Homo sapiens: one gene and its partners. The protein of the gene in region 4 interacts with the protein of the main gene of each other region in a pairwise test. Each region holds a gene or a part of one and is shown on either strand. Other genes may lie near its edges. The genes, in order: DAB2, ANTXR1, CKLF and LRP6.

The links.
Region 1: the proteins of LRP6 (region 4) and DAB2 interact in binary tests that used the Homo sapiens proteins (3 or more experiments, as listed by UniProt).
Region 2: the proteins of LRP6 (region 4) and ANTXR1 interact in binary tests that used the Homo sapiens proteins (3 or more experiments, as listed by UniProt).
Region 3: the proteins of LRP6 (region 4) and CKLF interact in binary tests that used the Homo sapiens proteins (3 or more experiments, as listed by UniProt).

What each region holds. Positions count from the first base shown.
Region 1 is NC_000005.10:39,372,960-39,379,995, forward strand, and holds part of DAB2 (disabled homolog 2), read right to left. Parts: intron 4,324-7,036; coding exon 3,691-4,323; intron 3,148-3,690; coding exon 3,038-3,147; intron 2,126-3,037; coding exon 2,060-2,125; 3' UTR 2,055-2,059; intron 467-2,054; 3' UTR 1-466. UniProt on the Homo sapiens protein: Adapter protein that functions as a clathrin-associated sorting protein (CLASP) required for clathrin-mediated endocytosis of selected cargo proteins.
Region 2 is NC_000002.12:69,240,143-69,247,178, reverse strand, and holds part of ANTXR1 (anthrax toxin receptor 1 isoform 1 precursor), read right to left. Parts: intron 1,955-7,036; coding exon 1,694-1,954; 3' UTR 1-1,693. UniProt on the Homo sapiens protein: Plays a role in cell attachment and migration. Interacts with extracellular matrix proteins and with the actin cytoskeleton and thereby plays an important role in normal extracellular matrix (ECM) homeostasis.
Region 3 is NC_000016.10:66,562,548-66,566,576, forward strand, and holds the end of CKLF (chemokine-like factor), read left to right. Parts: intron 1-574; coding exon 575-670; intron 671-3,338; coding exon 3,339-3,464; 3' UTR 3,465-3,521; downstream 3,522-4,029. Other genes in the region: CMTM1 (CKLF-like MARVEL transmembrane domain-containing protein 1), read left to right, coding at 3,967-4,029. UniProt on the Homo sapiens protein: May play an important role in inflammation and regeneration of skeletal muscle. Essential for embryonic development.
Region 4 is NC_000012.12:12,117,045-12,124,080, forward strand, and holds part of LRP6 (low-density lipoprotein receptor-related protein 6 isoform b precursor), read right to left. Parts: intron 6,285-7,036; coding exon of another isoform or gene 6,235-6,284; exon of another isoform or gene 6,138-6,234; intron 5,562-6,137; coding exon of another isoform or gene 5,471-5,561; exon of another isoform or gene 5,448-5,470; intron 4,377-5,447; coding exon 4,082-4,376; 3' UTR 1-4,081. UniProt on the Homo sapiens protein: Component of the Wnt-Fzd-LRP5-LRP6 complex that triggers beta-catenin signaling through inducing aggregation of receptor-ligand complexes into ribosome-sized signalosomes.

The DNA of each region.
Region 1 (7,036 bases), on a different chromosome or scaffold from region 4:
TTTTAAGAAGGTGCCTTGTTCTACTATAACCTTTAGGTTTTATGCTCTGAAACAGAACCCCCAAACAACTCTGAACAATAAGGATTTGAAAATTTATTCAAAACAGTATGATATGAAGGGATGTGGTGGCTGCATCTCCCAACCAGAGGGTAGAAGGCAGGTGTTCTAGAAGGTTCCAGGGACACAAGAGGCAGGGTTCAGTAGGGAAACTACTGTACTTCATTTACACTTAAGCTAGAGAGTTTAGGATCTTAATTTATTTAAAGCCATAGATTCAGTTTAGCTTTAACCTAGACAGAAAGTGAAAAGCATTTTACAAGTAGAAGAGGCAATGAGAAATAAGGCAACAGATAATACGTCAAAGCTGGAACAAGGGCAGAAATCAGAACGTGTCTGGCTATCAGCTTTGTTTTTGACTACTAAGGCCAACCTTTTTATTCCTCTGGATGGTCTGCAGACCAAGTTCCTAGAGAGGTATGGAGAAGAAAGAAACTTGTGGTTAGAATTTTTGAACTGAATATCAATGTATTAAATATCAAGTCATTATTAAAGATGTCAGTAATAGTATCTCCTAGGGCTGATGTGAGGATTGATGAAGATGATAAATGTAGAGCATCTAATAAAATGCTTAGCGCAAGTGCTCAACAATGTTAGTTATTTTATCCCATGAGAGTTCCCCTTACCCAATCTATTGATGTAGCAGGTTGACCTAAACTATCCTTCCTTCATGACCTAAAGAAGGAAGGACCTCCAAAGAGAAGTCTAGTTCATTCAATTTAGTCCATACAATCCATCTTGACTCTGAGTGTAGTTTACTCCTTCTATTGGTTTGGGTATATCTCCCCTTGAATGGAAGGTGAGAATGATCTCTGGTAAGACTTCTAGCTCTTAAATATCTACTTACTGCTTTATTACCTTTAGAATCACCTGCACTCTTGTTAAAAGGAAGCATTTCCTTGGCACCAAAGAGAAATTCCTTAGGGCTGCAGTAGGACCCAGGAATTTGCATTTTTAATGATTTACCCAGTTCTCTGAAGCAGTTTATGGAAAGGTACTACAGGAAACACAGTCATTGTAGAACTGGAGTTGAGGGAAAATGATCCAGATGCCTATAAGCTCAATCTTATTGTTTTCGCCACGTTTAAGATATCTATCTATTAAAAATAATTACATTCTAGATGAGCCAAATCACAGTTTAGTAGTCCTGTTTGGATGAGACAAGATTGGAAAAAAAATGGGCTTGGTTTTTGTTGTTGTTGTTGTTGTTTTTCATTATTTCTATTGTTCTACCCCTACCAGCTGGCCTACCTGCTCTAAAATGGGGAGAGCGTTCCTTTCCCTACTAAATTCAGTCTTTTGAGATCAGAATAAAGTTGCTGTCACCTTCTGTAGAGAAAGAGTTACACTGAGCCCTCCCAGGATTTCAGCTGAGGGTGATTCTACCTAATCACTTATCTAAGATAAAGTTCATGAGACAGAAGAATCAACCTTCAGACTCATTTTGAGCTCCTACTGCCTATGAAGGAGATCTTTAATAGTTGTTAAAACTTTCAGATTTAATACCATCAGACTCTTTCAGACTAACTTTGAGATTGCTCACAGTTAAATGGTAGAGAAGTAATGATCATAATCTGTTTTGCTGACTTGGTGGCTTCAGAAAGTCAATGGAATCTGAACCCTTTATAGGAAACCAAATTATTACTAGGTTGTTTTGCAACCACTTCAATATGAAAGTAAAAAGGTTAGAAACCTGTGATGTGTTGTTTTGAGTTTTACTTCCCACACAGAACTGAAAAACCAAGAACATGGAATAAGATAAAAATCCACATCCCCAAGGGTATATTACTATTTTTTGATGTGTTTAGGAATTCTATTCTTAAGTGCCCAGCCTAGTCATTATTGAATGATCTCAGTAGAGATTTTCCTGTCGATTACTCCTAAATTATAGATATTTACCCTCTTCCCAATTCTAAAATTAAAATTTCACTCTTTATTCCATGTCACCCTTTCTCACAAAAACCCCTGAGACAGGCTTATTAGGATCTTCTACTTACAGAATTTAGGCAAAAGGATTTCCAAATGGATCCCTATACATCTCAGAAGATACAGGTTGAGAAGAAGCCACCTAAGAAGATAAAATCATCTAGTCAATAAATACAGTTACAGTCATAAGAAAAAAATCGCAATGAAGACTTCCAAAATTCTTTTAAAAATCGCTTAGGTCATAGGCCAATCAGCCAATCAAACATTATATGGGGCTTACAGTGTTTTGTTTTCATCTGCTTGCAGATGGCAGTGTATATTATTTATGTGAAAATCAAGGTTCAGATGCATTTCATTTGCCTCCCCGAAATGGGAAGTATTATTTTCACAGGCTATAGAAATATTGTTGGAAAATTAAGAACTTAAATTTTTGAAAGGTTTTCAAGACAGTATTTTGGCTCAATTTTCTCCCGAAATGCTTTCATGGGTCAGGTTAAGTGAGATATGAAGGATGTTTTCTATGTGATATTATTTCTCAAATTCAGAAGATAATAGTTCTTGTGCAAATAATCTTTCTCCAGTTTAAATGAATGTTTATACTGTGAAGGTTCTTGGTGACAAATCTTAGCTAAACATGTTTTACCATCAAAAAGCTATTATAGCCAGGTGCGGTGGCTCATGACTGTAATCCCAGCACTGAGGGAGGCCAAGGCAGATGGATCACTTAAGGTCAGGAGTTTGAGACCAGTCTGGCCAACATGGCGAGACCCCATCTCTACAAAAAAATACAAAAATTAGCCAGGTGTGGTGGCACGTGCCTATAGTCCCACCTACTCAGGAGGCTGAGGCAGGAGAATCCTTTGAACTCAGGAAGTGGAGGTTGCAGTGAGCTGAGATTGCACCACTGCACTCCAGCCTGGCCGACAGAGCAAGACTCTGTCTTAAAAAAATAAATAAATAAATAAAAGCTATTATAAAAGCAAGGTTAATTCAGGAGGCTGGAGCTCTATGTGGCATGTACTTTGGAGAAGAGCTTCTAGTAGTTCATACTTACAGAGGCTTGTGATGAACCAAAAGAATCTTTAAAGAAAGGGTTCTCAAATGCATTGTCAGTAGATTTGGTAACTGGCAGGGAAACTTGTCTGGGAGCTGGCTTTGGTGGTTCTAGAAGGTAAAAAATCCAGGCAATCAGTAGACAAGCTTTCCCCAAATATAGGCCAGTCCCCGAGTCAGCTTATTTTTGAAGTTTAGTTCTATACTTTTGAAATTTACATCAGTGGAACAAAAATCAACACCAAATACTAGGTACCCCAATAATTATTATCCTTCTCGGAAGAGAAAGCCATGCATATTTATCTGAAGTGGAAGAGATTCAGAATCCCCTCATTTTAAGCTGATGGGACATGGATGACGCCTTATTACACAGCCCTCCAAGAGTCACCAGTCATCACATTTCAATAGCTCATGGCAGCCCTTTTAAGATTTATCACTAGAGGGCAGCATTGGGTCAGTCCTCAGAAATGACTAAGGTAAATAGTTATCACCAAAAGGTAAATGGTTAAGTTGTCTCCGTAACCCTTGATTACCAACAGAAGCAAGAGCAAAGCTGTTGGCGGGTGGGAGAGGGTTCATTTGGGGAACTCATTTAGGTCCATGTGGCAGTGGAGATAGTTGTTGGAACAGTAGGCAGAGTGGTGAGTGGCTTACCATTGATCTTGTTCAATAGTTGATTAGCATCAAAGTCATCATGGTCTGCATTCTCCTGAGGAATGCCAACCTTGCTGTTGAAATAACTGGCAAAGGCACTCAAAGTCCCAGAAGAAGTCTGCTCTCCCTTCCGCGCGGGCACAGCAGGTGGCTGCCGCAGTTGGAAATCCTTAAACATTTCTTTCACATCCTTGATCTCTTTATCCCCAAGTGGGTCTAAGGCAGTGAAGGCATCACTGGAGATGTCCTTGGGAGGGCCAGCTCTGGGAGGTGGCTGAGGAGGAGTGACCAGGAGAGAGGAGTGCATGGATGGGGGCTGAGTGGACACAGCAGGAGCTGGAAAAATATTGCTCTGAAAAGGATTCCCCAAAGGGCTTGTTGTTGACCAAGCATTGGGTGCCACAGATGCAGAAGGGCCCCAGACAACAGGCACTGGAGGGGGAGTTGAGGCTGCAAAGGGTGAAGGCTGGTTCCAACCTGAAACAGCTGGACTTGTACCAAAAATGACGGGCTGACTAAAACCTGAAGGTTGACCACCCATCATGGCTCCCGGAGCCATTGAAGGGGACTGATTGAAGACCAAAGATGCTGTGTTCCATGGTCCTGCCTGAGGGAGTGTGACAGTTACACCACCTGAAGTAAGAGGAAGAAAAATACTTATCAGGAGTCAAGCTTGAAGAAGATTCTTGAATTTCAGAGAGCACAACTCTCTGGAAAGCCTCTCCACAGCTAACACCTCCATTGAGCCCTGAGGCTGATATGGGAAGAATATGACAGATTAATCACTGTAAAAGTTAGCCAGCTAACACTGTATAGTGAGCATTCAAATGCTGGTTGCATTTTGAGGCCCATGTTCTTCCTACCATGTCTTTTTAACTTTCCTGATTAGAAGGGTAGTACGGTCCATAAGTATCTACTCATCAAAAAAATAAGCCCTTATCATACAGACACTAGTTGTCTGATACATCTCAAACAACTAGAACAGAGCCTGTTAATAGCAGGAACTTATTTAAGTGAATATATTTTTATGCATGAACCATGCTGATTATGATGTAGTTAATTAAGATAATCCATTGGACTCTCTGAGTCACAGATTTGATCTTTTCATTTGGCAACTGGCTCACGTCTGGAGTCTTATGGAAACCAGCAATCACACATGTGCACAAGACCTCAACATGCTTGCATCCTGAAGAAACCATTTCAAAGTTTCTTCACTTTTTATTGCTGCCAAGACTGATACAGCTATATACATAAAGGGAAGATAAAGTTTGGCCAATGCCAAGATAGTTTTAGACGTTTATATATAAAAATGGAAGAAAGGATGTTATCCTAGGAAGACTGTTTCAAATAAAAGTGCTTCCTGCCATGTGCCATTTGCTAAACCTTGCCAGAAGTTAGAACAGAGAATTTAAAAGAGGAGAGAGGACAATGGGAAACAAAAATCTTTCAAGGTAACTAATGGCCTGTGTTGGGGCATCTGATCTTTGTGGTGAATGGCTCCATCTCCTACGACCTTGCTATGTCATCAGGAATTCGTTAAATCGCCAGAATCCAGGCCTCTCCAATGATGGCCTCTGATTCTTGAGAGGCTCGCTCCCTGCATCTTGTTCTAATATACAGGGCACTGTCTTTCCTGCCTCTTTCCAAGTGCATTAATGATTCAGTTAAACTCACCGCTAAGAAGGAAACCTAAATTCAGCCTCATATCTATTAGTGGGTGATGCTTCGCTCTTGAAATCTACTTGCTTTGAGCTTTGGTGCATGGCATTCTTTAGTTATGAAAGTTTTCTTCAGACCTGGGTTAGGGACGTTTATGTTTCCAAGAGGGAATACTTTGAAAATGGTATTTAGGAGTGATGGAGCACAAGATTATATCTTCGAGCTTCTTAGTCTGAGACATTGGTATTACCTGACTCCATTCTCATCATGCATGCTGGCCATCTGGCCATGGGCACACATGGTGTACTCACAGAGAGTGGTGGGTTTCAGAACAGGCCATTTCACTTAATCAGCATGCTTTTTGGAGGTGAGGAAACTGGGTGCAAGAATATTCATTAAAATTGGGAAGGTCATAGTCTGGGATGGTAGAAACTGAAAATCAGGCACACTGGCTCTAAATCCGGCACCCCATTCTCCTGTTCTGCTTCCTTGGCAGCAAGGCATGGGGCAATTTTAATTTTCAAATGCTATGTTAATTCAAATACTTATTTCACGGATACAGAAATTAGACTTCATTTTCACTGAAGAATATACTCCTTTCATAACAAATCAAGAGAAAAGTTATATTCTACAATACAGGCTCTAAAAATGGGTTTAGTTTGAACAAAGTTGTTGCTTGTATTTTAAAACACATTCAATTAAATTGTATTAACAGAAGCCAGATCACTTGCTAATAATTTCCACCAGTTAGCTGTGCAAAAAGGAGGGTAGAATTTTATCATCTTTCATGTTGGACAACTTGTCTTCATTTAGGAAAATATCATATTAGTGAGAATGGTATTTGTAAAAGAGAAAAATATTAGGGCTGGGCGCAGTGGCTTACACCTGTAATCCCAGCACTTTGGGAAGCCAAAGTGGGAGGACCACTTGAGGCCAGGAGTTCAGAACCAACCTGGCCAACGTGGCGAAACCCTGTCTCTACTAACATACAAAAATTAGCTGGGTGTGGTGGCGCATGCCTGTAATCCCAGCTACTAGAGAGGCTGAGGCACTTAAACTTGGGAGGCAGAGGTTGCAGTGAGCTGAGACAGCACCACTGCACTCCAGCCTGGGTGACAGAGTGAGACTCTGTCTCAAAAAAAAAAAAAAAAAAAAAGGAGAGAAAAATATTACATTTGCCAGGAATTCAAGGCTTTCCCAGTATATACTTATACCAGTCTTCATTCCTACCCACCAAATCCCCACATTGTGTTTTAACACATTGAACACATTGAACACATTGACAAAGTAGGGGCAAGGAATAAGGAAAAAGGGGACATGGGTATAGAACATTAATTTTATTACCTTCTGAGGCTAGATTAAAATACAAGCAAGTTGAATCTGAGGGCTCAGCTTTCTACAATACCCTCTCCCCACCCCCCCAGTTCTCCAGGGGAGACAGTCCCCCAGCTGGGTCTAGCGGAAGCCAGACCTACAACCTTCCATGGTTTGGCTGAGGATCCCTGCTAGTGGACAGGGACTATACTGTAGAGCTCAGTTTGAGTCCCATGTCCAAACTTGGAACAATCATCAGTATTCTGCAGTTGTATACCCCAAGCCCTCAACAGGGGCACCTAGCCAAAAAGCTTCACTTCGTCTGAATAAATAAACAGTTATAGGGTCCAGCTGTATTTTCAGGCTGACTTGT
Region 2 (7,036 bases), on a different chromosome or scaffold from region 4:
TCTTTGGAATTGTAATTTGAGAAGGATTGTGAAGAAATCAGTGGGCTTAATAGGAAATAGTGCTGTGATTGATTAGCAATGTCTGCCATGGCCACAAAAATTGGTATTGATAAAATAAATGCATCCCAGGCCCTTATATCTCTGTTCTAAGTAAAGTGAGTGAATGAAGCTGGCTTGATGTATTTTTGAAGGATCTTTGGAGACCATAGCCCAAGCCACTAAATGTATATTTATTTTATATTCTGCCTTGTTCCAGAAAAGATCTGAGAATTTGGGTGGCTTGGGACAGGAATTTTAGGATTTGTGGAAAGCTAGAGAGAGAGATAATTTTGAATAGGCTGATGCAGGAGGTCCAAGACAATGATCTCTGTTTTTATCCCTGGGTGATGAAGCCCAGTGTTTAGCAAGTGATTATAGGGCTTATTGATTAAACAGATCCAGAAAGACCTGGATAAATGGGGTGAGTCCTAGGCATGGTGGAAATTTCAGGCAGAGCATTTCTGTGTTGCAGATCTGATGTATTTCCCCTTGGTTAACAGCTGAGGTTCTATGTCGAAAAGCCAAAGAGAAGTATATTTGTATACACACACATGCCTTATGGGGGTTAATCAAAGATCCTTATTATGTCAGGACCATTGTCTCTCAGCTCTGCCCAGAAGTCTGTGGTGCATGGCTTTACCAAGAAAAAAAACAAAAAACAAACAAACAAAAAAAACTAGTGATATTGTGTGATAGGTCCTAATGATGGTATTTTGGGAAGATCAACTTATGTTTATCTCTGGAAAACAGGATAAACTTCATACCTCAAGTGATTTAAACTGAAGCCAAACCTTGATTTTTAACATGATTCATTAACAGGTTGCTCTTCGACAATGCCATTGTCTGTTGATTTAGGGTCCATGTCTGGCCAAAGCCAGCCACCTCTAGCTGCTGATGGCCTGTGGGTTTTAGAAACTGGCTGATGCTCCCATGAATACGCCCCTGTCTATTGCACACAACTGATTTCACTTACACATCAACATAGCAACATACCTTTTCCATCAGTAAACACCTGCTCCCCTTCTCACTTGGAAACTGGAAGAATTTGCAAGGAAAAGATGCCATACATTTTTTATGTACCTGCAAATCCCAGAAGAACATCCTTCTGCATACCCGTCTGATGTTGAGTTTCTTACCACACCAGGGACCCCAGCATTTCCAAAGTTGTAGGCAAAGTTTTCCTCTTTCTTGGGTGGTGCACAGGGGTGAAGGTCCTTAGGCTCCTAGGCCAAGGGTCCAAAGTCCAGGGATGGAGGTGGAGTAGAGGCAGGAAGGCAGCATTTTAGAAACCCAGCAATGTATTTCTTATCCAACTCTGCATTTCACCTTCAGATAAATGATTTTCTTACTGGTCTCCATGAGACATAATCCTGTTGAGAGCATCTTGCAGTTTCACTGTCTCTGGAACCTTCTAGAGGTGATAGATGGCTGGCTATAAATCTGACTGTAGTTGCCTCATCATTTGTTTTCTGGCAATTTAAAATATCTGTTTCTTTCAGCTGATCATGATTGTTGGTATACTGGCATTGCCAACCAATTTTTAGAATGTGTGAAGGTCAGTGGGCTTTATCACCACTCCTCTTCTCTAACTGGAAAGACTTGTTCTAACATCTCCTGAAGTTTCTGAGAGAGCCCAGAGCAGGAACTTTGGGCTCTAGACAGAAGGCCTTGGAGGAGGGCGGGAGGGAGGAGGTGCCCTGTTGGGAGGTGGAGCCTGGGGAGGAGGGGGAAGGGTGGAAGGTGGGGACGGGATGGGAGGGGTAGGGGCGCTGGGGGGCGGGGGAGGGCAGTGGGGCGCAGGAGGTGGGGGAGTGTAGATGGGGGCAGGAGGCGGCGAGGAGGTGTGGTAGGCGTTGTTGAGTGGGTACTTGGCTGGCTGGTTGTTCTTGACCCTGGTGAAGTTGATGCAGCGCCCCTAGAAAAGAATTGGAGAGAAGGAAACGTGAGCGGACGGCCTCACATCAGGGCCTGTGGTGCTGTGGTGGGCGGCTTGCAAGCAATATGTGGAAAGCTGGCCCCTGTTGGTGACAACTCTCTAGTGGCACATAGTAGAACTTGAGGACAAGTGAGCTCCCCACTTCCTTTTCCTGGACTGTGTTGCAAAACTGTTAAAATTCATCTTTTCCTGGAGTCTAACTCTCTCAAGTGGGAGAAAGGGAATGAGACTGACCTTAACTGGGTGCTGTGTACAGAGGTCATTAAACTGAATCTCCTCAACAGCCCTGCTAACCGGGTATTATTAGCTGTTCCACTGCACAGATGAGGAAGCAGAGGTTCAGAAAAGCGGAGTTACTTTTTCAAGGCCACACAACTAGGAAGAGATGGGGTTGGTGATTCTAACCCAAAATAGACTCCAGAATTATTCTTCCTGCTGCTACTTTGCCTTCTGGAAGGGATCCTCATATTTCATAAACAAAAGTAATTTATTTTGATTAGTTCAGTTACATGCCTGGAAATGGCAGAAGGTTAACACCACGAGCTTCTCCTATATTGTAATTCAAGGATGTAGCTAGATTCTGTGATTGGAGTTGTCATGGAGGCCCTGATGCATTTACCTCGTCTGTGCCCCCTCAAACACTTGTTCCCGGTAATGAATGAAGGAGGCAGCTATCTCTACTGATGTGATCAATACAGCTTCCTCATCCACGCCTTGCCTTCTCCAAAGTGCTAGTAAATAATAAACAGTTTGTCCTGCCCTTGTTCTGGCTGTGGGAATCCCTCTTCTACACGCGGCTGCACCTGTGCAGGTAGCCTTAGTTGTTGTCACAGGAACTGACAACCTGTGTACCTTAAGAAATACAACCTGGGGACATTCTATTGCCAAGCAGGCATCTGCCCTGAATTCTGCTTTTCTCCTACCCTTCTTGGGTACTCAACTGAACAATGCAGAGAAGACCCTGGAACCCCTTAAAGCAGCCTCCTGAAAGTCAGCGTCCAAAGCCAGCCTTAAGTAGCCCTGTCTCCCCTATAGTATCTGCTCTGCTCTCCAGAGTCACAGGCATGCTTTCTCTGTCCCCCAGTAGATACCCACTAGTCTCATCTGGTACTCAGGAACTTCTGTGCAACACTCAGCTCTGCAACGGAGGGGAGACAGGGGTTCTCCTGCTCACCATGTTCCATGCTGGCGTGAGCTCTCTTCGCTTGGCCACTTGCCTGGGTGGGTACCCACCCCTCTGAGGGCTCCTGGCCTCCCTCACTTCCCATGCCTGTGGGGTATCTTATTGTTCTCTCTCTGGCATGTCTGGATGCCTACAGAATTGCTCCCCACAGCGGCTGAGGTGGGGTTGCTCCTCTCTGAGGCTGCCCTCTATGCTGGGCCTGGGGCTGGGGTGTGGAATTGTTCCTGGCCACATGCTCCAGGATGGAAGTTATCCTGTGGTGTCCAGCCTGAACGAGATATGTCCAGAGAGCACAGAGTTTCCCTTTCCAGGCCTTTTAGGGATGAGCTTGAATGAGAATGAAGAGGGTGAGGTGTGGAATTTGGGGAACAATTGCTGCTTAAATTAGCTCTAGGACAAGAGGAAAATGAGAGTGTGCTATTAGAGACTTGGCTCAGGATGGGCCACAGAAGGGACAAGCCACATGCTGAGCAAACCTTCCCTCCTTGTGCACAGCCCTGTGCATCCTTCAAGTCATAAATCATGTCCCTTTTCCCCCAAACATTTCCCCCACAGTGACTCCAGCCTCCACTTACCCTTTGCTTCCTTGAGTTCTCTAGTTACAGCCTACACCACACATTGCAGCCTGCATACTACAGTTGTTTCATCTGTAAATGCCTTGCCTCCCTGGCCAGACAAGAAACTTCTGGAAGGCTGCAGCCTTGTTTTGTGCTTTGCTGCTCCACAACTCACAGCCTCACAGGGTGTTCTGCATGGTACAGGGACTTTTGGTAAAAACGGAGTTGTTTGAGCCACTCAGGAAAAGTAGGGGGTGGGAAACCTTAGCAATAAAGTGAAAATTAATTCCTAGGACATAGCATTAGTCAGAGGGCATCTTGGTGAGGAAGGGCCAAACTTGATGGGACTGCAATTGGTTTAGGAGTTGCAATGCTATGTTTAGATGCCAGCACCCCTGTTTCTCTGAGCTTGCATTTCATGTGATTAAACCAGGTGCTAAGCCGGGGAGGCTGTGACTGGGGTTCCACCCACTGCAGAAAGAATTTACCCCCTCCTCGCTGCACTGCCCAGAGCTCCCGGGTTTATGTCCAGCCTTTCAGGCATGATGCCGATTTTGTAACCCAGTACTGTACATTCCCGGCTGTTCAAGCTGCCCTCTTTTATAGCTTTATAAATCTAAGCCTTGGTTACAGTTTATTTATGATTCTGGATAAAGCTTTCCTTTAAGATGTGAGGGCCCTAATGATTACCATCTGTGATGAATTCCCATGACGACAATTTAGAGCTGGGATTTACTGTGCTATCTGTTCTGCCCTTCGTTCCTAGACATGCAAAGTCAGACAGAGAGGCTCAAGAGATTCATGTCCTTGAAAGATGAAGGGAAACCCTCATCCTGGGGAAGGAGCTGCTGGTGCCTGGGGTTGAGTGCTCATCTGGCTTCAGATGTCTTCTAGAGCTGGCCACCAGGCTGGCCGAGAGGGGAGGCTAATTAATTAATGAATCCGGAAGCTCATGTACTTATTCTCTTCAATTGAAATAAGTCACTCTACTGTTTTTACCAGAGGCTGTTTTGTCCAGAGACAAAATCGGGAGCTCCCAGCCTTCTTCTGCCAATATCTCTGTTCATAATCCATGTTAGGATTCCCAGGGGTTTTCAAAAAAGTTGAAAGCATCCACAGACTAAAAGATGGTCTCTCACATCTGTCCCCTGAAGATGGGATGAAAGAGGGCAGTGGGGGCTGTGGGGGAGTGAGGTGGGGAGGAAGACCTGAGGTCAGCACTTCCAGCTGCCGCCGTGGTGTCTTGGCCAGAGCAGCAGAGGGATGGAGATGGGGTGGGGTAAAATGGTGATGGTGGAGGCAAAGAGTCCTCCTTCCTCTGGTCAGTAACACCCTAGGGGTACGCCCATGGGTCACCTAATCCAGAGCATTGTGCTGTGGTTCATTATAGACCCTCCCCTCACTCCCCACCACCTGGTCCTTTAGAGCTGAGCACAAAAGCCCAGAGCTCTCATCGAGCAGCCAGAGGGGAGGGGCAAGCTCAGAGCTTCTGCGTGGCCCCCACTGTGGGACACCCCACAGTGTGATGTGAAGTGGGGGTAATCATACCGCCTGTCACTTACAGGTATTAGGAGGACTCCCTTAATCAGTGTTATGAAGGGCTTGGAACAGTGCCTGGCGCATTGTGTTTAGTAGTCTAATGCTGTCTCTCTGCAGGTGGGGATGCGCAGACACAATCAGACCCTGTCTGTGGTGGAAAGGCCAGTTGGAGGTGGTATCAGGTGTTCCAACTCCTAGTTTAGTGTCTTCTGAGTGAGCTGCAGACTAGAGCTTCTATACTCCACATCTGGCTTCTATAATACAACTGGTAAATAGGAAAAAATGTAGCAAAATTGTAGGGAAAAACAAAGCAGCCCCTAGAGCCTGCACTCTTATGTTTGTTCTCTCCTCCTGTTGCCACCAAGTCCTGTAACTTATTTCTTATAGGACCTCCCACAGTGCACTGCACACAATTTGACTGATGTTGAATTTATCTTCCTGAAAAAAGGTGCAGACTCGGCATCAATAAATCCCTGGGGTAATATACAGTAAGACCCACAGTCTTTGTAAGAGGGGTGTGGTTACAATAAGTTCTTAAAACCTGGAGTCAGAGGTGCCAGCATAAACACGGTAACATTTAGACCATATAATTGGCCTAAAGATCAGTTTACACAACATCGTTTTTTGCTTGCAAGAGGATAATAGAAAGGCCAGATGTTCTCACCGTCATGTAGGCCAGCAAATCTGCACCAGTGTTTGGTTAAAAGGTTGCTAGGACGATTGGAACTCTCGCTTCATAACACTGGTCTTTGTGACCCAGTTTTATTTTCCACAGTATTGGTTTTGGGTGGTTTGATTCCGATCCAAGATTTGGCTTTGACCTCAGTTTACCTCAGCATCCTCATTTACAGGAATGAATGCCAATTATTTTCACACATTAGCAAAAATTTCTCAGATTAAATTCTAAGAAGAAAATGCAACAATATCTCCAGCTAAATGAAGGCTTAGGATGCCAGCTGGCCTTCCTCCTAGGCTTGAAAGTGCCATTTTGATTTGGGTGTATCTAATGGTGGTGGGAGGACTATTTGAAACGTCCAGGTACATTAGTGTCTTTACTTATCATCAAAACTCTGTCAGTTATGTATCAGTATTTTCATTGTACAGAAAAAAAACTAAAGTCTCACACCTATTTAAATAACTTGCTCGAGACTACACAGCCAGTAAGTGGCAGAGTGGGATTAAAACCCAGCTCTGTTTGCCTCAGGAACTCATCCTCTTTATACTGTATTCCTGAATATAGACTAAAAGTGCAAATGATTTCTTGAAAGACTTGTAGATAGCATCACACAGTGTAGCACTTGACCACAATCCAGCAGCTCTTGACATAGTCAAACGATTGTTCCCGAACCTAAGTCTGGTCAATTCACTCTCCAGCTCAAAATTCTTCAGTGATTCCCCATCACCTTTAAAATAAAAGCCAAACACCTCCACTGGCATACACAGCCCTTTGGGATCTGGTGCGTGCTTATGGCTTTCAATTGATGTCTTACTCTTTTCTTGCAAGATGTCCAGCTTGGTCCACCCTATGCCCTCCACAAATATTTGTTCAATGAGGAATATAATTTGCCATGTGGAACCCTACTCTAAATGTTTCCCATTAGAAACATTGCTCCTTAACTGGTTGGTGAGCACCTCTGAGGCACCCTCAAGGGCTTCTCCTGTGGAGCCTAGTGTTGCTCTAAAGAGCCCAACATTCAAGTTGGCACTCAACAAGTACTGCTCACACACCGGAGCTCCGAGGTGCAGCAAGATGTCTTAGAAAGCTCTGATTTTTCCCTGCAG
Region 3 (4,029 bases), on a different chromosome or scaffold from region 4:
AATAAAAAGCTTTTTAAGTAAATGATTGGCATATCACAGGTAAAAGAAAACCACTAGGTGTCATTATAGACCAGATACTATCTAGGTATCATTTTACTGTGACATTTTGGTTTCCTGAAAGATAGATGCTAAATAAATTTGTTTAATAAAATGAAACTTTCAAAATATTTAGGAAGCTGACTCCTTTTGTTGCAACAGAGTCTCACTCTGTTGCCCAGGCTGTAGTGCAGTGGCATGATCTCAGTTCACTGTAACCTCTGCCTCCCGGGTTCAAGCAATTTTTGTGCCTCAGCCTCCCGAGTAGCTGGGATTACAGGCATGCACCACCATGTCTGGCTAATTTTTGTTTTTTTTAGTAGAGACGGGGTTTCACCATGTCGGCCAGGCTGGTCTCAAACTCCAGGCTTCAAGTGATCTGTCTGCCTTCCAAAGTGCTGGGATTACAGGCGGGAGCCAGTGCATTCTGCCTGCTGACTTTGTTTTTTGTTGTTGTTGTTTTTTTGTTTTTTGTTTTTCCTTTTTAGCATTGCTTGGTAGTCTTCATGTAAGGCTCAGCTTTATTGTGTGTTTTTAGGATATTATCAACTCACTGGTAACAACAGTATTCATGCTCATCGTATCTGTGTTGGCACTGATACCAGAAACCACAACATTGACAGTTGGTGGAGGGGTAAGTGGAAGTCTTTCTGCTTGCTTTCTTCAGGTTTTATCAGAATGCAAATTTACTTGGAAAACAGATGTAAGAATAGAAAGCTATACTATATTCATCCTTGAGATTCCTAGGCCAATATACAATGCCTAGTGGCTTAATATTTTTGTCTGTGAATGCTTGCCCTGATTAACATGAAGGAGTATGATTTTATACTAGAAGCAGAATTAACCCAATAAAGGGGTTCCTACAGATTTCTTATAGGTACGTAGGGCTAGACTAGACTGACAAAAGCTACTGGAATCAGTTACAGCACTTAGCTCTGAGAAACCTGATGTCAAGCAAAACAAAACAAAAGGATGGATGAGTTTCATAGCTCTCCCTTTTACAGAAAAGGATACATACCATTTGTTAAGATGAGACAGACTGTTTTGAGCTCAGTTATTTCTTGTTCAGATCCTTCAGATAGAATATAATAGATGATGTCCTTACGGTAAGAGAACATTGGCAGGGCACCTTGCAACTAAAGGATCATTTTGAACCCGGCTTGAAGAGAAGCAGATCAATTCCATCAGACCTCATCCTAGAAAGCAAGCCAGAATATGACTCAAGTAATTTAGTTATAGTTCTATCTGATATTCTTCTAAGATTTCTCATACAAGGTTCAAAATCATTTAGCTTTTCTAGGTTCTGACCTAGAGAATTGAATTAGAAAGTTCTTAAATAAATCTTCCTACTTCCATGTTCTTTCATAGTATGGGTCACTTAGGAGAACTCTCAGCCATATATGTCAGAAGCCATGATTTTCATCTCCCTTAGGCCCTGAGCAACTTCATGAGGAGTCAGAATTATTCTAGAAATGAGATAGCTCTGTATCAATTTCCCCCAGTTGTTTTTGAAGATAATACTCATCTTTCTACTGTGAAGAAGGAAGGACCAGGCATAGGATTTACTTTCATTCACTTTTTTACTCATTCATTCATTTACTCATTTCTTAAGTGTACTTTGGCAGGGGCTGACAAAATATAGAGCTGTGCTATTCAGTATAGTAACCATAGTTGCTAGCCACATGGGGCTACTGAGCACTGGAAATGTGGCTAGTCTGAATCAAGATCAGCTGTAAGTATAAAAATACACATTTAATTTCAAAGATTTATTACCCCCAACAAGGAATGTAGAATATTTTGTTAATAACTTTGTTGATTACATGTTAAATGATAATATTTTAGACATACTGAGCTAAATATATTAAAATCTATGACTTATTTTTTTCTTTTTTTTTTTTTTCTGAGACAGAGTCTGTCTCTGTCGCCCAGGCTGGTGGAGTGCAGTGGTGCTATCTCAGCTCACTGCAAGCTCTGCCTCCCGGGTTCACGCCATTCTCCTGCCTCAGCCTCCCAAGTAGCTGGGACTACAGGCATCCGCCACCATGCCTGGCTAATTTTTTGTATTTTTAGTAGAGACGGAGTTTCACCGTGTTAACAAGGATGGTCTCGATCTTCCGACGTCGTGATCCGCCTGCCTCGGTCTCCCAAAGTGCTGGGATTACAGGCGTGAGCCACCGCGCCCGGCCGACTTTTTTCTTTACATTTATAATGTGGCTGTTAAAAAATCTTTAATTATGTGGCTGTGTTACACTGGTGACTCATATTATGCTGCTTTCAGACAGCACTGACTAGAGTGTGAGCCCCGTCCTCAAGTTGCTTAGAGCTTAACACAGGAGACACAAGTGGAAACCGCTGTATATAAGCTGTTGACAGGGAGCTGCATGGTGCAGAAAAGAGGAAACTACCTCTCTGGCAGTGGAATTGCTGTTTGCTGAGAATAAAGGAAAAAAAATGGAAAAGGTTCCAGGTAGAGGAGCCAATAGTGTACAGAGTGCCAGTCATGAAAAGATTGGTAGGAGGTATTCAGTGTGGTCAGAACCTAGGAGGCAGTGGCTTGAGACTCTGGGTGGAAAAGGAGACTGTGAGAGCCATGTCTGGAGCCAGGAAGCCAAACTTCCTGATGACTGGAAGAAGCTGACCAAACAGCATGCAAGGAATGACATCCCCCTCTCCCACCCCAGGCACCAGCTCTCAGATAGCCATCAGAGTGTCTGAAGGCCCCCACGTGTTCTTAGTTATTGTTTTTATCTAATTTTACTTTCTTAAGGTCTATTTAGAATCTCACCCTTTAAGCAGATGTAGCCTAGCCTTTGAGAGTTCACTTTGGATCATCTTATTAACTCCAGTTTTCTGGAGCTACAGTCCCCATGATTTAATATTGAGCTGGTGTTAACTTTGACCTTTTCTTCTGTAGAGTTTGTCAGTAGAGAAGTCAGAGTTGAACACTGGGGTTAGAAATATTAATAACTAAATATCCTCAGTAGGGCTTAAAAGAATACATGCAAGAGCAGGTCAAGAGATAAAAGCAAACAAGTATGGATTTCAGAGCCCACACTGCTTTATTATTTTTCTGCTCACTTAAATTATCTTTTCTCTTTCTATAGGCAAGTATTTAGAAAACTTAGCAATGAGGAGAATAAGATGATCTCTGAAGTCTCTCCATGTTAGTATTAGATGAAGCACAGGGAGCAATCCGAGTACCCTAGCAAGAGAGGAATCTGGTGGGCAGACCACTTAAAACTTGTGTGAATGACAGGAGTGGGGACCATGGTTAGGGCAGTGACACTTGTCTTTCTTTCCAGGTGTTTGCACTTGTGACAGCAGTATGCTGTCTTGCCGACGGGGCCCTTATTTACCGGAAGCTTCTGTTCAATCCCAGCGGTCCTTACCAGAAAAAGCCTGTGCATGAAAAAAAAGAAGTTTTGTAATTTTATATTACTTTTTAGTTTGATACTAAGTATTAAACATATTTCTGTATTCTTCCACATATTTTCTGCAGTTATTTTAACTCAGTATAGGAGCTAGAGGAAGAGATTTCCGAAGTCTGCACCCCGCGCAGAGCACTACTGTAACTTCCAAGGGAGCGCTGGGAGCAGCGGGATCGGGTTTTCCGGCACCCGGGCCTGGGTGGCAGGGAAGAATGTGCCGGGATCCGCCTCAGGGATCTTTGAATCTCTTTACTGCCTGGCTGGCCGGCAGCTCCGAGGTGTGGGGTTGCAGAGATTTTGAGTTCTCGGGCTAGGCGGTGGCATTGCACCCCCTGTGGCAATGAGGGTGGCTGAAGGGCTCGGCTTGTCGGTGGGGCAGCGAGAGCCGGGTGCACGCGCCGGGGAGGTAGCCAACAGCCGTTGGGACGCGACGCTGGTTCCCAGGGGAGAGCCAGCCGCTGCCGCGGCACTGGTTCAGACGGCCAGGCCCTAGGGACCCACCATGGATCCTGAACACGCCAAACCTGAGTCATCCGAGGCACCTTCAGGGAACTTGAAACAACCG
Region 4 (7,036 bases):
TTTTGAAACTATTATAAAATGGTGCCATCCCAAAAGTCAGAAGCCACACATGCACTACAAGTACTTTCTAAAATCATCTTTCACTACAAGTACTTTCTAAAATCATCTTTCTCTTGGTTCATTTTAGGCTTAAGAAATACCAAATAAAATTAAATTCCTTGGGTTTAAGAATTCTGATAATGTTTTAAACAACACCTGACTATAAGCTTCTTTAGGACTCAGTCCACACTTAGTGCATAGTCTCATCTGTAGATGCCCAAATATTTGTCCACCTACTGATAACTGGTCAACACACTCATATCCATACTCTAAATCAACTATGGATGCCATATGTAGACTTAAGCACCACACATTTATTAAGAGCTGACATATTTCGGATGTGAAAAGTCCAAGATTTTTGTTTCTGAATCTTGTTAGATACGTAATGATAACCAATATGTAATTCCTATGGCATGCAAATGAATGAAGTGGGACAAAGCTTCCCCTACAAGAAATAAAACAATTCAAAATATGACATTTCTAAGAATCTAATCTAGGCAGCTGCAGCCTGTTTACTGCATAGAAGTAGGCGTGCTTAACGCATACCTCTTCAGTCTCTATTATGACTACTGGTATCAAGTCACATAAATAAACACACTTCATTAACACACTAGGTAAGCTACAGCTATTAACTCTACTGGAAGTATTCTTCATTAATAGGGCTTTATAGCAAAAGAAAAAGATGATCCTCCAAAACTGCTACCTAATACAGATGATGGCTATTTTTAATACCTTCAATAATGAATGAGTTTCCTTCATATAAATTACTGACTTTAGGATATTTTTAAATGATAAAGAAATACAACCCTCAAAATCATCTTAAAATTGTACTGCTCAAAGCCCCTTCCCCCAATTACTGGCCTATATTAGATTAAAATGTACTTTAAAGTCTTCATTTCTAAGTACCTATCATCTCTGTAGAATAGGTGTTCTCAAACTTACTAAAGAATCAGAGATCTCTTGGTAATGTATCACAAGCTACTTTTATATTAAAATTAAAGTAACTACATAATCTTCTGCTAAACAGATATCTTGTGATATGCTGTAAGAGTGGCAGAAAGTGCCAAAGGCATAATAAAATTTCATGGAAGAAAAATTAATAGTCAGAAAATTCTATCCACCAACTCTCTTTGTTTCCCTGTGAATGTGCTATTATCTGACTTAAGCAAACAAAACTCCTTAAGTCACTATTCAGAAGACCACGACTCTGTTGGAGCAAAGTCCAGGCCTTAGTTATAAAAGACCACTTCAATGCAGAATAGCTTACTGTGGTGCACACAAAGTATGTTATGCTCAAGTTTATTTCTTGGACAATTTTAATCACATCAGTTAGTGCATATATTTTAGGACACATGTTCAAAATAAATACTTTTGCATATAAGGAATCTAATGAAACATTATTCATTTTCCCCCTTGGACAATGAATTTAATACACCAAATTTAAAAATCCCTTTTCTTTTTTCCCCCTAATTTGTGATCTCATGCTTTTCCTCTCAACTTTTCCAATTACAGCTTGTGTTTGATAATCAATATACAGTTTACTTAAGCTTAACTGTCCATGTAACCTAAGGCTCAATAAATCTTTCCAAATTTGACAATTCTCTCATTAAAAAGTACTCCCAGAAATATTAAGAATCCATCTCATCTACCCCAGAAAGAGAACACTGAGATTAGGCTGAACTGCCTTCAAATAATTTTAAACAAATTGGCACACAAATTAGTATTTTGAAGAAGAGGCCATTGCCATCGCAGTGCAAGCACGTGGACTGAGATCCAACAAGGCAATATTCTTCTTAGTTAATTAGAGTGCAAGTCTCCACATGGGAAGCCCACCAGATCAAGATGCACATTTAAATATGTAAACATATAGAATTCTCAAATTCTAACTGACACCCAGGTATTGCTAACCTTTCCATCTTCATTTAAGCATCAAGTGCCCTGTGTATCACAGAATCCAAGTTCAATGTCCATTTTGTCTGACACTGTGGGCACTTAGTTCCAGCAATGGGAAGAGTTCATGCTTGTCTGTTTTAGGATTCTGATAGATTTACCATTTGCTTATATGCAAAATCAAGTGCACCTGATTCTTACAGTCTCCAACAATCAGCATTATTCTGAAACCACAATTTTATCTTCAAAAACTTTACTTAGGTATTTTTAACTTGCATGAACAGTTACTTCACCCTTGCCCAAATTCTGAATCCTTTCTTCCACTGTTTTCTCTTGGGCCCTGAAACCCAGAGAGGCCTTGGCAAGACAGAATTAAAAAAGAAAAAAAAAAAATTCAATAATTAACTGACCAACACCTCTTAAGCTAAAAATACATTAGTTTAAAACCATTCAATTTTAGCAGAGAAGTGCTACACATGTGTAAAAAGCAGGAAACGAACTTCTGGCAAGGTGGCAGAGCAAGTGCTAGAATCATTCCACAGGTCAGCCCTGATAGCTCAAGATGTAGCAGCCCCAGTACCATACATGACAGCAGGTCAGGCAGATCACAAAAGAGGCTTCCATTATTCCCTTCCACCCAAATTCTGACAGCTGAGAAGTTAACAGTTTGCCTTCTCATTTAATCCTCATTGTTAAATTTGTTAAACTATCTTAATCCATAATGGGTAAGAGAGGACCCACATAAAAATATTGGGTGATTACAAGAATAATTTGTGGATAATTTGAAAACAGCCTAACATTCACAGTGGGTAACAGAAAGATATTAAATTCATGTCACACATTAGAAGAGGTATGTATGTAGACATTATTCTGAGAAAAACCGGTCTAAAGAACATGAAAACATCACAAACTGTTAATATAGGGAAAATCCTAATAAGAAAAAAATCTTTTTAAATAGATTGTCTCTAACCAGAACATATTTAAATGTTTTACTCAGAAAACAAACAAACAAACAAAATATATATATATATATATATATATATATATATATATATATATATATATATATAAATGATTTCGTACTGTGATATATGCTGAAAGTAGTGCAAGGATATGAGATTTACAACAAAAACATAATGGTTAAATTTTTAATTCTTAAACATTGTCTATATGTGTTGTAAAAAGACATTTTAATGAGCATTAAAACAATCTTGGAAGAAGAGAAATAATATGTCTAACTTTTGATCATTATGCAAAAACAGCAGTCAAATTGAAGAGCTAAGCCTACTGGGGAATGGAGCTAGAAGAAATATTAAAATCAAGTTTAATTTAGAAAATTCCATTTAGTCAATGCTTCAGCTTAAAAAAATCATGGTATCTTAGCAAAATGACTTACCAAGTTGCTGGAGGAGGCAGCAAGGTAAACATACCTAGAGAAAAAAATTCATTTTGACAGAGGTATGGATTCTAAAGGTAGGGACAGAGACTTGCACACACACACAGCTTCATGGCATCTTACCAGAGGGCTGATCTCTCCTACAACAGCAACACCCAGAATGGGTTTTTAGAAATATCTACTTTCCTCACTAGCACTGTTGGATTCCTAGAGAAAACAAAGCCCTTCGTCCAAGGTTAGTATTAATTGCATTTTTTTCCTTTCATCATTTCTTACTTGTTGGCCCTCAAATGTTAGTTAACTGAAGGCTATCTGGCTACATCCATGTATCTATGGTTTGCTGCTCTGAGATGGACTTAATTTTTCTTCTTCCTCTTTTTTATTTTTGGTATCAATAAAGCCCAGATATTCCTGGTCAGTGATGCCTTTATTATTCCTGTTTCCTTTGTACTCAGTTGCTTCACTGGGTTTAAGGCATGCTTTGTGTATTTAGTTTGCAAAAATAAAACTTTTAGTACAAATTTTTTTTATACAAACTTTTATGGCACAAGCAGCAAATCTGCTGTTTTAAGAAAATATATAAATATCCTTTTCTTCTGTACAAATATCTCCAGTATTCCCTACCCCATTTTATAATTTTAACTGTACATGGTCTGCCTCATCCTTCTCTAATAGCTCCCTCCCCCCCTCCAGATCTCAACCAAATTTATATTTACATTTTTACGTTGGAGGCAGTCAGAGGAGGAGGGCCCCTCCTCAGGAGGAGTCTGTACAGGGAGAGGGTGGCGGTGGGTAGAGGTGATGAGAATAGCTCCTCTCTGTGTATGGAGAAGGTGGGCAGCTTTCATAGTTCTCCTCTGCTGACAAGTATTGGCTTCGGGGTGTGGGAGGTGGGGGCACAGGTTCTGAATCATAGTTCAAGTCACTGGTATAGCCCTTGGCTGTTGCCACTGAGGTCATTCTCCGACTAGGAGCATAGTCACTGTCACAAACATCTGTGCTGCAGGGTGTGGTGGGGGGTGCAAAGTGCCGGTAGCTATATGGCCTGTAGCTGGTATAGGGAGAAAATAAAGAGAAGCAGTTAGTTTTACAAAAAAAAATGATTTCCCCTCTCAGAATAGAGGTATTAGATGTCAACTACCCTATGAAAACAATAAGCTACTGCAATTTAAATTTACACAGACCAAGAGGCAATTTTCAATGGCAGATTCGCTGAGGAAAATAGCAGGTACTTTCTTATTTGCAAATAAGAAAGTGGCAAGTGAAAATGAACAGGATGGGAATGCAGAGGTGAATTCAATCTAGCCTCTGGTTGTGCTCTTACATCTTCAAGTTAAACTGTATCACAGAATAAAAAATGACTATTCAAATTTGTTCTGCAGTTTCATAGCCCATGGGAAGAATGGGTTTTTACATATTTTACACTACTCAAACATGTCAGCATTCCCTCAACATTCTTTACTCCAAAATTAACCTGATGAATAATTAATTTAATGACATCTGAAGTCTTCATTTCTTTCTTCTGTACAATTCTGTACAATTTCTGTACAGTCCAGGCTGGATTTTGGTAGACAGCCTCAGGGGCATAACTATTCCATTGTTGTTATCTTAGCAAAGGGAAATTGCTGTGATTGGGGGAAACGGTTTTCATTCCCTGTGTATAGGTAAGTACCTCTCATAAGAGCAGCTTTAAACATCAAAATGATAAAATTTAAATGCCCATAAAGGGTCAGTGAATTTTCTAATGTATATTTCAGAGGCCTAGTTTATTTCTTACACTTGTTTATCTTTACAAGTGACATACAGTTGTTAGGTTTGTAGCACTGCTAACTAAAGAAAAAGGCATTGGAAAGAGAGAAACATACTAGTGAAAATAAGATCTGACCTAAGTTCTGGCTTTTCTGTCATTCCTACTTCTATTTTTAACTTCTTATACCTGTTTATTCTAAATATGGTAAAGCTGATCTTAAATTTATCCCAAAGATTTTTTCATAAGCTTTCTCATCAAAGTGACTACAAGAGAAGGGGAAAACCAAGTTAAAAACTGATACAACGATTCATAAAACACCTAGTGATACAGAGCACCACCAGGTAATATATCCCAGGAACCCAGGATACAAACCATTTGATATCACTTGGCTTGCTTCAAAAGAAATGGCTGCCAGATTGTTCACAGTCACAGATCAAATTCCTTGTTCTACTCTGTCTCCCCTTCTTACTACTGCATTTGATTAGTCTTTAAAAAAGAAAGAAAGAAAGAAACCAGCCTGGGCACCATAGCAAGACCCCGTCTCTACAAAAAATAAAAAAAAGCTAGCCAGGCGTGGTGACACACACCTGTAGTCCCAGCTACTTGGGTGGCTGAAGCAGGAGGACTGCTTGAGCCCGGGAGGTGGAGACTGCAGTAAGCTGTGATTGTGCCCCTGCACTCCAGCCTGGGTGACAGAGCAAGACCCTGTCTCAAAAAAAATAAAAATAAAAATAAAAAGGGTGCAAGGCTGCCAGAGACCAAAAGTTATATGACCCACTGAGTGAGTTCTCAAAGGCTTTTACTATCAATACTGACATGATGTCACAGTTTGTTTTGTTTAACTCTTTGTCCAATCAGGTGTCAATCCTTGGTGAAATTTCTAAGGTCAACATTTAAAAGTCCAAATACTTCTATTTTCATGAAAAAAAAAAAAGAAAACAAACTGAATTAATAAAATTTTTTCATGTCCCAGTTTAAACCAAAATCTCAACAAATGATGTAAGTTTTGACTCAGAGGAAACAGAAATTGGGCTTATACGGAAAATAGTTAAGCAAGAATAGTTTTTTATGCAATCGTGTTTATTCTGATGAGTGCCTTAGTCAATTTGAATTAAGGACATTACTTTTAAAAAATAAAATTTTGTATCTTTCTCCTTTCTCAATTTTCAGGCTTCTGCTTTTTCTGTTTTGGCTTCCTAGAAGAAGAAACTTGTGGCAGGGAAAGCAACATTACAACATATCATTAAAACAATCAGTTCACAGCCAAGGCTATTTCAGTCTTATCTAAGCTGAAATGAGAATTCTGAGTGAGATACTTTAAGTGGTTTCCACTTCATTTCTACACATGGGTGAGGTCGTATCAGGCCAATTTGACTGAAATGCTAGGAAAGATAATAGAAGATTATCTAGAGAGGATAGAAGATAGAAAAGATTATCTAGAAGATAACAGGCACTTGAGGGATGCCCATGAACCCTGGGCACTTCAGTGTGTAGATAGAAACTCTCAAGCTACTGATGGTCTGTTGGCCTTTCAAGGAACATAGAAGTGGAAGCTGACACAACAGTACTTGACCTGCTCAACACACTTTATAGACTCATAAATTAGCAAAAAGGAATAATTTTCTCTTTTTTGGCTTACAAATACACTTTATTTATTTCAATCTTTCTTTATTCCATGCAACTACATGAGAAATCTTTCACTCCAAATTGTAATAGCATATGCAAGCAATGGCTGAACTTACATTTCTCTCAACTTTTCTAAAATTCTGTGCTCTGAGTATGTTGCTGTTTTAAACTCTCAATTCTATGAACCAATCTTATCCCAATATTTCATTCTTAGAATATCAAACTATTTTGAAACCAGTCACTTTGGTGGGTAATTCCTCCTTAGAATACTGCCAAAGCCTGAGGCTGTATTTTATTATTATAAAAGCCAGCATTTGTGACTCTCTTAAAAAAAA